3 linked regions of the Homo sapiens genome follow. The protein of the gene in region 3 purifies or fractionates together with the protein of the main gene of each other region. This does not show direct contact. Each region holds a gene or a part of one and is shown on either strand. Other genes may lie near its edges. The genes, in order: EIF3C, CENPA and RSF1.

Region 1 (3,653 bases), on a different chromosome or scaffold from region 3:
TGCATTATTTTGGTAAATTCTTCATCCATTCGTTCCACCAGAGTTAGGATGCAGCCACGGACACGCAGTGGCTGAAAAGGAAGGCGAAGGAGGAGTCAACAAATTAGCCCAGATCTCAGTCTCAAACCTCAACCCTCGGGTCCCACTGAGCCTTCCCAAAGCATAAAATACACACCTCCAGTTATCCTGCCAACTCCTCCCTTTACCTGGTCAGCGTTGTGCAGGTTCTCACTCTCTTCCAGAATATTCTCTCCAACAAAAATGTTGGGATTTGCAAACAGGATATCCATCAGCTCATTGATGCAGTCCAGGCACTTCCCCCACATCTCTGGCTGCCAAGATTTCAGGCCACATCAGAGTCAGAGGTGTGAAGGTAGAGTAAGCGGATGCCTCCCCCTTCAGCAGGAATCATGGGGCCTTCCACCACCAAGACTGCCTCCATAGCCCCTGAGTCTTAAGATGCTAGGTACCTTCTTCCCCCAACCCACCAGCGATGCCCTGAGATGAGCCTCTTCACTGCTCTCACCTTCATGTAGGTTGCCAGGTTGGGGTTGTAGTCATAGAGAGAGGCGATGATATTGAACTTGATCTTGACAATGACGCCCTCTCCCAGGTTGTTTTCCGCTGCAATCTGAACCAGCAGTTGCAGCAGCTCAATCTGGGCAGCACTAGAGGGCCAGAGAGCTGGGTGAGGCTTTGGAGACAAATCACAAAGTCTCTCCCAGCATGCCCGCTTCGGATAACGCGCCCTCCTCATCACCCATATCCCTGCTTCTCCTTTATAAATTCCAAACAGAAGCAACAATAATCCCAACCATCCTGGAATGCTGTGAAATGCTTCACACCTACCACCATCCTCTGTTACCTAATAACTAAAGAAGGTAAACACTCTTTTACTTTTTTAATCTTAAAAAAAAAAAAAGCCAGGTGTGGTAGCTCATGCCTGTAATCCCAGCACTTTGGGAGGCTGAGGCAGGCGGATCACTTGAAGTCAGGAGTTCGAGACATGGTGAAACCCCATCTCTACTAAAAGTACAAAATCAGCCAGGGATGGTGGCGGGTTCCTGTAATCCCAGCTACTCAGGAGGCTGAGGCAGGAGAATCGGTTGAACCCAGAAGGCAAAAAGGTTGCAGTGAGCCGAGATCGCGCCAGTGCACTCCAGCCTGGGCAACAACGAGACTCCATCTCAAACAAAAAAAAAAAAAAAAAAAAAAAGAGGAGAACATTATCTCATTGTATAGATGGGAAAACAGATCCAAAACGTTAAGTGATTGGTTTTAAGTCACAAGAAGAGTAAACAGCAGATAATGGACGGGGATGCCCCAAGCATACAATTCCCTCTACTACAGCCACACACAGACCCTCCCAACAATCCCTTCCCCCAACCTCCACCCTCTGCCACCCTGCAATCCCACTGCCCAGGCCCACGAATCTTACCGATCAGTTCCCTTCTTGCCTCGTGCCTGTAGGATCTCATTCAGTTTCTTGATAACAACAGCATGGGTGATCTCAGTTCCCTTGGCAAACATTTTTGGCTTCTCCTGTATCAGCACATATCCCGTCATGTACATGCCAGCGGGAAACTGTCCTTGCCTTTTCCCCACAAGGGGACCTTTATGTCCTCCCAAACTGTTCCCCAATTCATTTTACCTCTGAAACCCTCACCTTAACCAACGGCACTCCGCCCCGGACCCTTTCCCACTCCCCGCCTTCATTGTCCTCCTCCTCCTCATCCAGGCGCTTGGATTTCCTGTCGTGCTTCTTCTTAGCTTTGTCCTCCCGTTTCTTCTCGGCTGCCTTCTTGTCCTCATCTGTGGTGGGTGCCCTGCCGACAGACATGGGAGAAGATGACAGATCAGCCCCTCCCCACCTCTAAGGCTTCTTCCTCCCATCAACTTCCTCTTTTCCTCCAGCAGCTCCTGGGTCCAAGTTATGCTCTACAACAATGACCTAGAGGGCACAGTGAACCATAACCATAGCCATCTCTAACAAGACAGAGTACTAACCAGGCCACTGTAGACATATTAATAGAAACAACCTGTCAGCTAAGCATGGTAGATCACTTGACGTCAGGAATCCAAGACCAGCCTGGGCAACATGGTGGAACCCCATCTCTACTAAAAGTACAAAAATTAGCCAGGCATGGTGGTGCACGCCTGTAGTCCCAGCTACTTAGGAGGCTGAGGCACGAGAATCACTTGAACTTGGGAGGCAGAGAAGGCTGCAGTGAGCCACAATCATGCCACTGCACTTAAGCCGGGGTGACAGAGCAAGACTCAGTCTCCAAAAAAACAAAACAAAACAAAACAAAAAAAAACCAACCTGTCATTTTGCTCCAAAGCTAACATCTACAGTTTTCCAAAGAATCCACAAACAACTTATTTTCTTTGATACCAGCTGCTTTCTCCAGACTGACCAACTAATCAATGAATCAGTTCCCCCAAATATATAAAAACATTTTTTTCTTTTTTACTATTCCTAAACTGTTTTATCGCTTTCTCTCCTCTCTTGACAACCGATTAATCTAAATTCTGAATTTAAAAAAAATGTTCATTACAAAAAAGGTCCCCACAAAACAGAAAAAGATCACCAGCTACCTTAAAATGGTCTTAGGCTACTGGATGTTGCCTGAAACCATCTCCAGACTTGAGTATGTATTTATGTAACAAAATACAAACCAAATGGCAAAGACAAATTACTTCAAACTTTGCACAGATACTGAAGAATAAATCTTTCCAGAAAGACTCAACATTTTTGAAAACTCATATGTAATAACCATAATCTACCATTTGAACATTTATAAATAAATTTCATTTTCACTGCTTAAAAGGTTTGAATATGTTTTTGGAATAGTCTATAAGTTTACCAGTTAAATTAAGTCTTCCCTTGCCAGAAGACCAATGCCATAACTCTCAACAAAAGTGTATGGACTGGCCAAGCACGGTGGCTCAAGCCTGTAATCCCAGCACTTTGGGAGGCCGAGGTGGGCGTATTGCTTGAGCCCAGGAGTTTGAGACCAGTCTGGGTGACAAGGTAAAAAGCCCGTCTCTATTAAAAACAACAACAACAACAACAACAACAACAACAAAAGCTTATGGATCTTTCCCCTGTACCACTGCAAGACTCTAATGATGACTCACTTTATAGGTAAAATCCTTTGCAAATATGCAAAGCATGTTCATTAAACTAAAACCTCTTGGTCCAAACCATCTGTATAGCTCTGAGATCAGAAGAACTAAAGCTATTTTTTAAAATGAATGCTTCAAAAGAACTTAAACTTCCTTGGCTAAAGTATTACTTCTAGCACTAAAGATAGTATGATACACACCTCAAAAGGGAAATGTACTATTGTATGAAATTCTAACTGAAAGACCTAAGACTTGGCTTGACCTCTCCTATGACAGATTATACTCTGGTATATTCATATCTTGTTAGAAATTATCAGATAACAAATGTTTATATCCTCAGCTATATAATCAACAGATAAAAGCAACATTTCTAAACGAGTATTACCTCTACTTAATACATAGTTAAGAGACTAAAAACTCATTATTGAGAGACACCAACGGAAGTCAGGCCTAACTACACTGCAGAGGACCACACCATTTTCCCATGCCTTCCCAACCACAACTACTGATGGAAAGCCCTAGAT
Region 2 (3,170 bases), on a different chromosome or scaffold from region 3:
CAGAGTGCTGGGATTACAGGCCTGAGCCGCTGCGCCTGGCCGTATTTACGATCTTAAGAGAAAGGGCAGGAGTGTTTCCTTGACCCCACATTCTCACTTCCCTATACCTCCCATTTCCCTCTACTTCCCTTCATAGCTGTCCTTTTAAAATAGCCAGACTTGTTAGGTCCACATACATTGCATCTGATTCCTCCCTTCCTAGTGACCCTACAACCCACTCCAATCTGACTCCCCACAACCACTACCCCCACTTCTAATCTGCTTGAACTACTCCTGTCAGGGTCACTAGCACCTTTTGTAGTGCCAAATCCAGTAGGTGGGTCTGTGTTCTTACTGTGTCTCAGAAGCATTTGACGCAGTGGGCCTCTTTCTCCTTGAAGCGTTCTGTTCCCTTGGCTTCCATGCCACTGTGCACTCTGGCAGTTCTGCTTGGTGTTCTCTACTGCCTGTGCTGCCTCCCTCGGCTCCTTGATGTTGGACTTCCTTGACATCCTTTTCCTTTCTACCCCCTCCCTAGGTGGTCTCATCTCCTCCGTGGCTCTAAATCCCACTCATACATTGACAGCTCTCAAATATCTGTATACCTGGATCTCTCCTCTGACCCCAGATACCTATATCTAACTGCCTTTCTACCTGAAGGCTCTTGGTTATGTTAAACTTAACACACCCAAAACTGAACTTCTGGTTACTCCCCTCCAGCCCCTTCATCCTCAGCTTCCCCATTTCAGTAAATGGCACAACTACCCACCCAGTTGTTCAAACCACAAGCCTGGGAGACCCCCGTCTCCAATACAAATGCAGGTCCAGATAATTCTACTTCCAAACTGCATCCTTAATCACTCCATTTTCACCATCTCTGCTCCCACTAGCCTAGTCCAAGCTACCAGCAGCTCTCGAGCAACTGTGAGAGCCTCCTAATCAGCTGCCACTCCACTTCCACTCTGTCCCTTTCTACTTCTTTCCTTACACAGCAGCTGGAATGACCTTCCACATCTCTATCCTGCATAAAACTCTTCCCTGGCTTCTTATTACAGTAGGATTAAATTCCATCTCCTCATGTTGGCATTTCAAGACCCAGCTACTAAATTTTTGATCCCAGTTCTTTTCCATGATCTCTCTAATTGGTTACTTTTCATAACCACTTGTTCTTGGGTCATGGATTTCATATCTCTGTTACCTCTCTGAGTTCATTAACCATTTTTCTCTCAAAGTTTCTATTTCTTTTCTCTATTAACTCAATTTCCTCTGGTATTGGCTATTTTGTTTGTTGAGTTTGGTTCCTTTCTTTCATGGTATTGGCCTTCTTAAATTGTTGGGTGATCTTTAGTTGTGTTCATCTTCAAATTTTCTGTGAATGCTATGTCTTGTTTATTTTTTTATTTTATTTTATTTATTTATATATTTTTGTTTGAGACACAGTCTCATTCTTGTTGCCCAGGCTAGAGTACAGTGGTGCGAGCTTGGCTCACTGCAACCTCCATCTCCTGGGTTCAAGCAATTCTCCTGCCTCAGCCTCCCAAGTAGCTGGGATTACAGGTGCCTGCCACCATGCCCGGCTAATTTTTGTATTTTTAGTAGAGATGGGTTTCTCCATGTTCATCAGGCTGGTCTCGAACTCCTGACCTCAGGTGATTGACCCACCTTGGCCTCCCAAAGTGCTGGGATTACAGGCGTGAGCCACCGCACCCAGCCCTATGTCTGTTTATTAAAGACTGCCTCCAGTGACTGGATTGCCAACTGGTGGTGGGGAGGGAGGGAGGTGTCAGTAGTTTTTCTCCTGGGCATGGGTCTTCCCAGTTTTAAATGTTATCAGTCTTCTGGACACTGCCCTGTTTCATTGGCCTGTGTTCTCTAGCCTCACCCAGGGATGGTCTCCTCTGCTGGCTGCCTGGCACAGGCCATCTCTGGATTGTCTCACCTACCCTACTTGCTCTTGCAGCTCTTCTAACACTTCGTGATTAGTTTATTGTATTAAATGCCTTCTATCGAACTTGGTGTAGAGTCTCTTTGCTTGGCTGGATCCTGAATAACATTTCTGAAACAATTTTATCCGTCAACATGTTATTTTTGTATTTTGTTTGTTCAACTTATCAGATGTTCACTCATCTTGATCCTTGGTTGTAATTATGGAGCAACTGTGCTGTTTTTTCTTTAACTTTATTTTCACTAACTTATTTTCTAATATTTCTTTTGTTCTATCTTGTTTTGGTTTACTTTAATAACTCTGTAATACTTAATTTGACTGCTTGGCTCAGATACCTTTTAGTGTTCTTGTTTTCTAATAGGAACACTTTAAGGCTATGCATTTTCCTCTAGTACTATTTTGGCTGTATCTCATAAGTTTTGGGATATGGGCTTTTTATTGTTATTCATTTCCAAATAGTCTAATTTCAATTAAGTTTCCTCTTCAACACAGGTTAGTTAGAAGAAACTGGTTTTTGATTCATGAGTTTTTAATTTCCAATTAGAGAATTTGGCTTTTTTGATTCCTACTTTTGGGAATGTTTTTAAAATTATTTTCTTTTTTGTTCTTGTTGGAACCAGGATTTGAGCCAAAGGCTCTGTCTCCACAGCCCAGGTGCCTGACACTGACACTGAGTTAGGCCACACCTTACACAGGTCTCAGCTTGGCCACTAATGAGGGCTGGCCAACCATCTTCACCTCGCTGGGCCTCAGGATGATCAAGACAAGGGAATTGTACTAGTCTCTCAGATTCTTTCCAGCTGTAAAAAACAAACCAACAAAAAATCTAAAACCAAAATAACTGAGCTTCCAATCTAGGTGGGAAAGATCTAAGACTTGTACAAAGTCCTGCAAAGCCCAGAGGAGGGCGGTCACCCATCTGTTTGGAAGGATCAGGATTCGGGAAAGACTTCATGGAAGAGTTAGCATTTAAAATCAACTGCAGAGGATCATTCACTCATTCATTTAACAAATGTTTATTTAGCACCTATCTGCTATTTTCTAATTGCTGAAGATAGCAGCAAAATTACTATATATCAGGTTGGTGCAAAAGTATTGTGGTTTTTGCCATAACTGCAATGACTTTTGCAGCAACCTAATAAAACAGACAAAAATCCCTGCTCTGTGGAGGGTAGGCACATAGATATAGTCTAGCAATTTGACAGCTTACCTGACTCAGCCAAGCTGCGAGGCACCACCTATTTTC
Region 3 (4,367 bases):
TTCAAAAGTTCTTTACCTAGTTAATATTTTCCATCAGAATCACAAATACTCTGCTAGTTTGTTGGTAAAAAAGCAAGTTCAGTGTGAATTTTACTGTATTTCAAGAGTAAATAAAAACTGTCAAATCATTTGTAGCTGAGAAGCCTACTCAGGGTTGGAAGGACCGGTTAGTCATTTGGTTTAATCCATTTTTTAAGGCGTGGATCAATGTGTGGATGTTTGGTCTCCCAAACATCCCCTATTCCTAATAATTCACTTCCAAGCTTGTTTATTATTAGAGAACTAAGCTTCCTCCATAGAATGAATGGAAAACTTTTGCCCTATGGCTTCTGTCCTCTGGTCTAGTTCTGTGCTCTTATGGGACCACACAGAACAAGTCCACAGCCTCTATAATGTGTTAGTTCTCCAGAGGCTAAATATAGAAATCAATAATAGTTTTCTAATATCTATATTTGTCTAGTTGGCAAATAGCCTTAAAAATTATTTTAGGGAAACTGATGCACTTGCAAATTTACTTTCTAGATAGCGGGAGAACAATTCATCTAGGCCTGGGTGATAAATTTTAACCGTCATGAACTGTTACAGACAATTTGTTCCATGTGCCACAAAATTTAAAATAAGCTAAGTTTGCAAACACATCATGCTAAATAATTCAAATTTAAATTTTTATTATGACAATTGACATATTAAGTGAAAGAAATGACAGAAGTATTATAATAAAACATTTTGAAAGAAAAAGTTACACAATTAGGCCAATAGCTATAAAATGGCTTTAGGCCTGGCTTATAACACCAAGAGTTCTGATCAGACTGTAGTGAGACACTGAACATTTCATTAACAAAAATACTGGCACCAGCCACAACATATTTTGGTTGTCACTTACAAGGAATATTGTATTTAAACAACTATGCACTGCAATTCTAACACACTAGGTGTTCATACACTGAAGTTAACCCCTGAAGCTTTAAGCTACCAAGAATTCCCATACTTTTAATGCACAATTTACTTTGCGTGTTATCAGAATTACATTTCCAGTTTTCTGATCTTCCCTGCCCCCCCACCCCCACACACATGCAGTACATTATGTGACAGAGAGCACTCCAGCTTCTATTTGACTAACAGCATGGTCCTGATTACCTCAAGAGTTAGTTTTATGCCAATCTTGGAGCTTCTGCTTTAAATCTCATCTCCTAGAAACCAAATAAAACATTCTGAGAACCTATTCCAGGAATATTTTTTTTAACGCATAGGAAAATAAAGCATTTCATATAAGCATGTTGGAAAATTCAAGAGGCATTCTGATCAGTCCCTGAATTCCAGCTATTACTTTAAATCAAAATTCTAAAGATACCATTTATAAATTTTTATGTGGAATTTGTATTCTTCATATGGAAACTCATGATCTGCAGGCTTCCCTTCTGAATGAGGATAGCAAAAAACTGACGCTGGCAACACATGAATATAGCTTTGATTGAAATTATGACACACTTAGATGAATTTAATTATTTTCAAGAATACACTTGTACTACAAAGGTGAGAAATTAGAATGGCAAAATTATCAGATGGGAAAAAGTACTGACATTTAAACGAAGCTGTGAATATACCATGGTAAAATGTGCCATGTAAAAGACTGTGCTAGAATCAGAAGTTCTACAAGATTTCAAAATACTTAGTGAATAAGGAAGGAACTGAAACTTGAATTTGACTTCTCTTGCTGCCACGCTTCAGCAGACAACTATTCCTGTGGAATTAAGTCCACTGAATAACCAAATAGACCAATTCTAGTTTTTTCCTTCTTTTATATGAATAGATTAAAATCAAGCCCTGCTCTACCACCATCTTAGCATAGGACATACCCTTTCAAAGTGTACACACAACCTCATGGCAGGTTTGGGCAAGCTACAACAGATACCATCTCAAGAAGCTACTTTGAAAGAGAATAGAACACCAGACTAACATTGAGAATACCCTAGTTAGGCATCACAAAAATCATGTGCTGTAAGAATATGCTGTTAACAGCCAAATCTGGGCTACTGTAGCTGTTCTGATCCTGAAAATCCATTTACTAATATAAGCTAGATGTGTGTGTGTGTGTGTGTGTGTGTGCAATTTTCATGCAGTGACCTTAAAGCTTTGGAGACAGGGCTTGTTACTCTAATTTCAAGGCTTGTCCACATAGCAGTTGACATGCACCAATTCTGCTAAAGGGCAGGAGAATGAAAAAGACATGGCACAAATTTTTAAACAATTTTAGGTTTAATTACATAATGCACCTGTAGATGATCTAGCATAAACACAATTGTAAAAAATCTACATCCTATTTTAGGGTATTTTCCCACCTCCCATCCCTTAAAAGCTGTACAGTTATTTTTTTTAAAAAAAGGTGACTCTCAAGCAAAATAAACTTTTTTTTTTTTTTTGCAACATACAAAATAAGTTAAATGATTCAGAAGGTTTTGAGCCATGAAGTTCCCCAATAACTATGTTCTGGCTGTTCATGAGCATGACGTGCAAGCTGCTGGTCTATGACCAGAACTCAATAAATACAGATCAAACAAAACCGCAAAACACTTAAATTAGATTTCTTTAGAAACTGATGAAAGTCAAGAAAATATATACTTAGGATTAACAATTCCATTCTTAACTTACATCATCCAGTGGCAAAAAGCACGAGGCAAGTATTCAGTCCTTAGCACACTTTCTAACTTGTACCGGTTTGGCCAAAAAAGGAAAAAACAAAATTCCTTTAAAAATGTTTTTTTCTCATTCAAAATATCCAAGAAATTTTATAAATTTCTACTCATCTATTGTTATGCCCTCTTATATAACTTATGTATAGGATAGTCATATTTTAAAGTTATTAAAATAAACATCTTCACTAACTGAAACCATTATGATGTGCCAGAATTGGGTTTACTGAATTTTCCAAAGTGGTATAAATATGAAAGGAAAAAAAAAATTGTGCTCAGGTGTCCAAAAGGAGGAAAAAAGGTCCACAAATTGGATCCTCTTCTAATCGACTTCCAGGAGGGTTTGCATGAATGAATACAAAAAGTGGTGAGTGTATACTCTAAAGTGGTTATATACTAAGCTCATTACATTTTGGCTTATGACTGCTTGCTTGGCAATTACTCTCTTCAACATATTACAGTTACTTAGCAATTCTTGGCACTCAAAAGATGTTAAAAGATAATTTAAGTTGGAGCAAAACATTTTGAAAACAAATTAGTGAACATATAGCAACTCAGTTTAAATACATTGATAGCAAAAGGCTTTGACCTTAAGGATTGGTATAAAAATGACACAAAAAAATCAGTTAACTTGCCACTTCCAAGGTAGGTTTACAGGCACACACTTTGGGAAAGGTAGATGATATAGGAATGGATTTTAATCTGAGAAGATTCAATAATGGATCATATTAAGCAGAAGAGGGCTAGGTAGATTACAGCAGATATGCAGCCTTGGCATTCTCTGCTTCTTCGAGAATGAGGAATATATTTTGAGAATGTCAAACATCAGGAGAAACTGTTGTCTAGATTTTCTGTAATTAAATGATGTTCATAATATTTGTATCTGTTGCAATGCAGCCATCTTATTTCTTTCAAGTTAATGATGGATTCATTTTTATTTTTTCTGATACTTATCTGAAGTGTGTGCGTGTGCACACACACACACACATATACACATGTACCATTTAACTCTGGGTCTTTGAATAGTTGTTCTATAGCTGTGAGGCATCACCTTGAATAACGGGCCTGTTCCACTGTACTGGTAAAGAGCGGAGTTCCTAGCTTTTTCTGAATATTAAACTTGTAGATTCATTAGGTTCTTTACAGTTGTGTGGTAGAATCAGCAAAGGGTTAACATCTCTTATGCCCACAAACAAGCTAAAAAAGCATTCCTTGTGACAAAGGACACCCCACCAGTCCCACTTAAAAACAGCTAACATTTCCTCATCATTTTGACTATTAAACAAGTAAATGTCCATGTTTTTCTTAATATGTGTACTTTGCTCAAATGTATATTATAGGATGGGTTTCATCAACTAAAAAGTAAAAACTGGGTACGTGTAACACCCTTTTAAAATTAATTTGTTTAAAAATTATTTTTCAAAAGCTTCATTAGCATTTAAAGTTTTTGGTTCTTGGGCAGGTCACTTTTATATATAGATTGCCAGTAGACATGAATTTATTCTAAATGAAACTACCCTTTATCCTCTGAATCTGTAACCTTGACCAATTGAAAAAAGGATGTCAAGGAAATATAACTTGATGTACATTCTTGAAAATATCTCTGCCATCATTTTGCAGTAATGTGCCAATGATGGAAAATGTTTTACACTAATTTCATCAGCACTGATGTACAAA

What was found.
Region 1: the proteins of RSF1 (region 3) and EIF3C fractionate together in Homo sapiens (co-fractionation; one large-scale study listed by BioGRID). This does not show direct contact.
Region 2: the proteins of RSF1 (region 3) and CENPA purify together in Homo sapiens (affinity purification with western blotting; 2 studies listed by BioGRID, with this or other methods). This does not show direct contact.

The regions. Positions count from the first base shown.
Region 1 is NC_000016.10:28,721,337-28,724,989, reverse strand, and holds part of EIF3C (eukaryotic translation initiation factor 3 subunit C), read right to left. Parts: intron 1,827-3,653; coding exon 1,667-1,826; intron 1,543-1,666; coding exon 1,439-1,542; intron 739-1,438; exon of another isoform or gene 669-738; coding exon 527-668; intron 333-526; coding exon 207-332; intron 72-206; coding exon 1-71. UniProt on the Homo sapiens protein: Component of the eukaryotic translation initiation factor 3 (eIF-3) complex, which is required for several steps in the initiation of protein synthesis.
Region 2 is NC_000002.12:26,788,934-26,792,103, forward strand, and holds part of CENPA (histone H3-like centromeric protein A), read left to right. Parts: intron 1-3,170. UniProt on the Homo sapiens protein: Histone H3-like nucleosomal protein that is specifically found in centromeric nucleosomes. Replaces conventional H3 in the nucleosome core of centromeric chromatin that serves as an assembly site for the inner kinetochore.
Region 3 is NC_000011.10:77,659,358-77,663,724, forward strand, and holds the end of RSF1 (remodeling and spacing factor 1), read right to left. Parts: 3' UTR 652-4,367; downstream 1-651. UniProt on the Homo sapiens protein: Regulatory subunit of the ATP-dependent RSF-1 and RSF-5 ISWI chromatin-remodeling complexes, which form ordered nucleosome arrays on chromatin and facilitate access to DNA during DNA-templated processes such as DNA replication, transcription, and repair.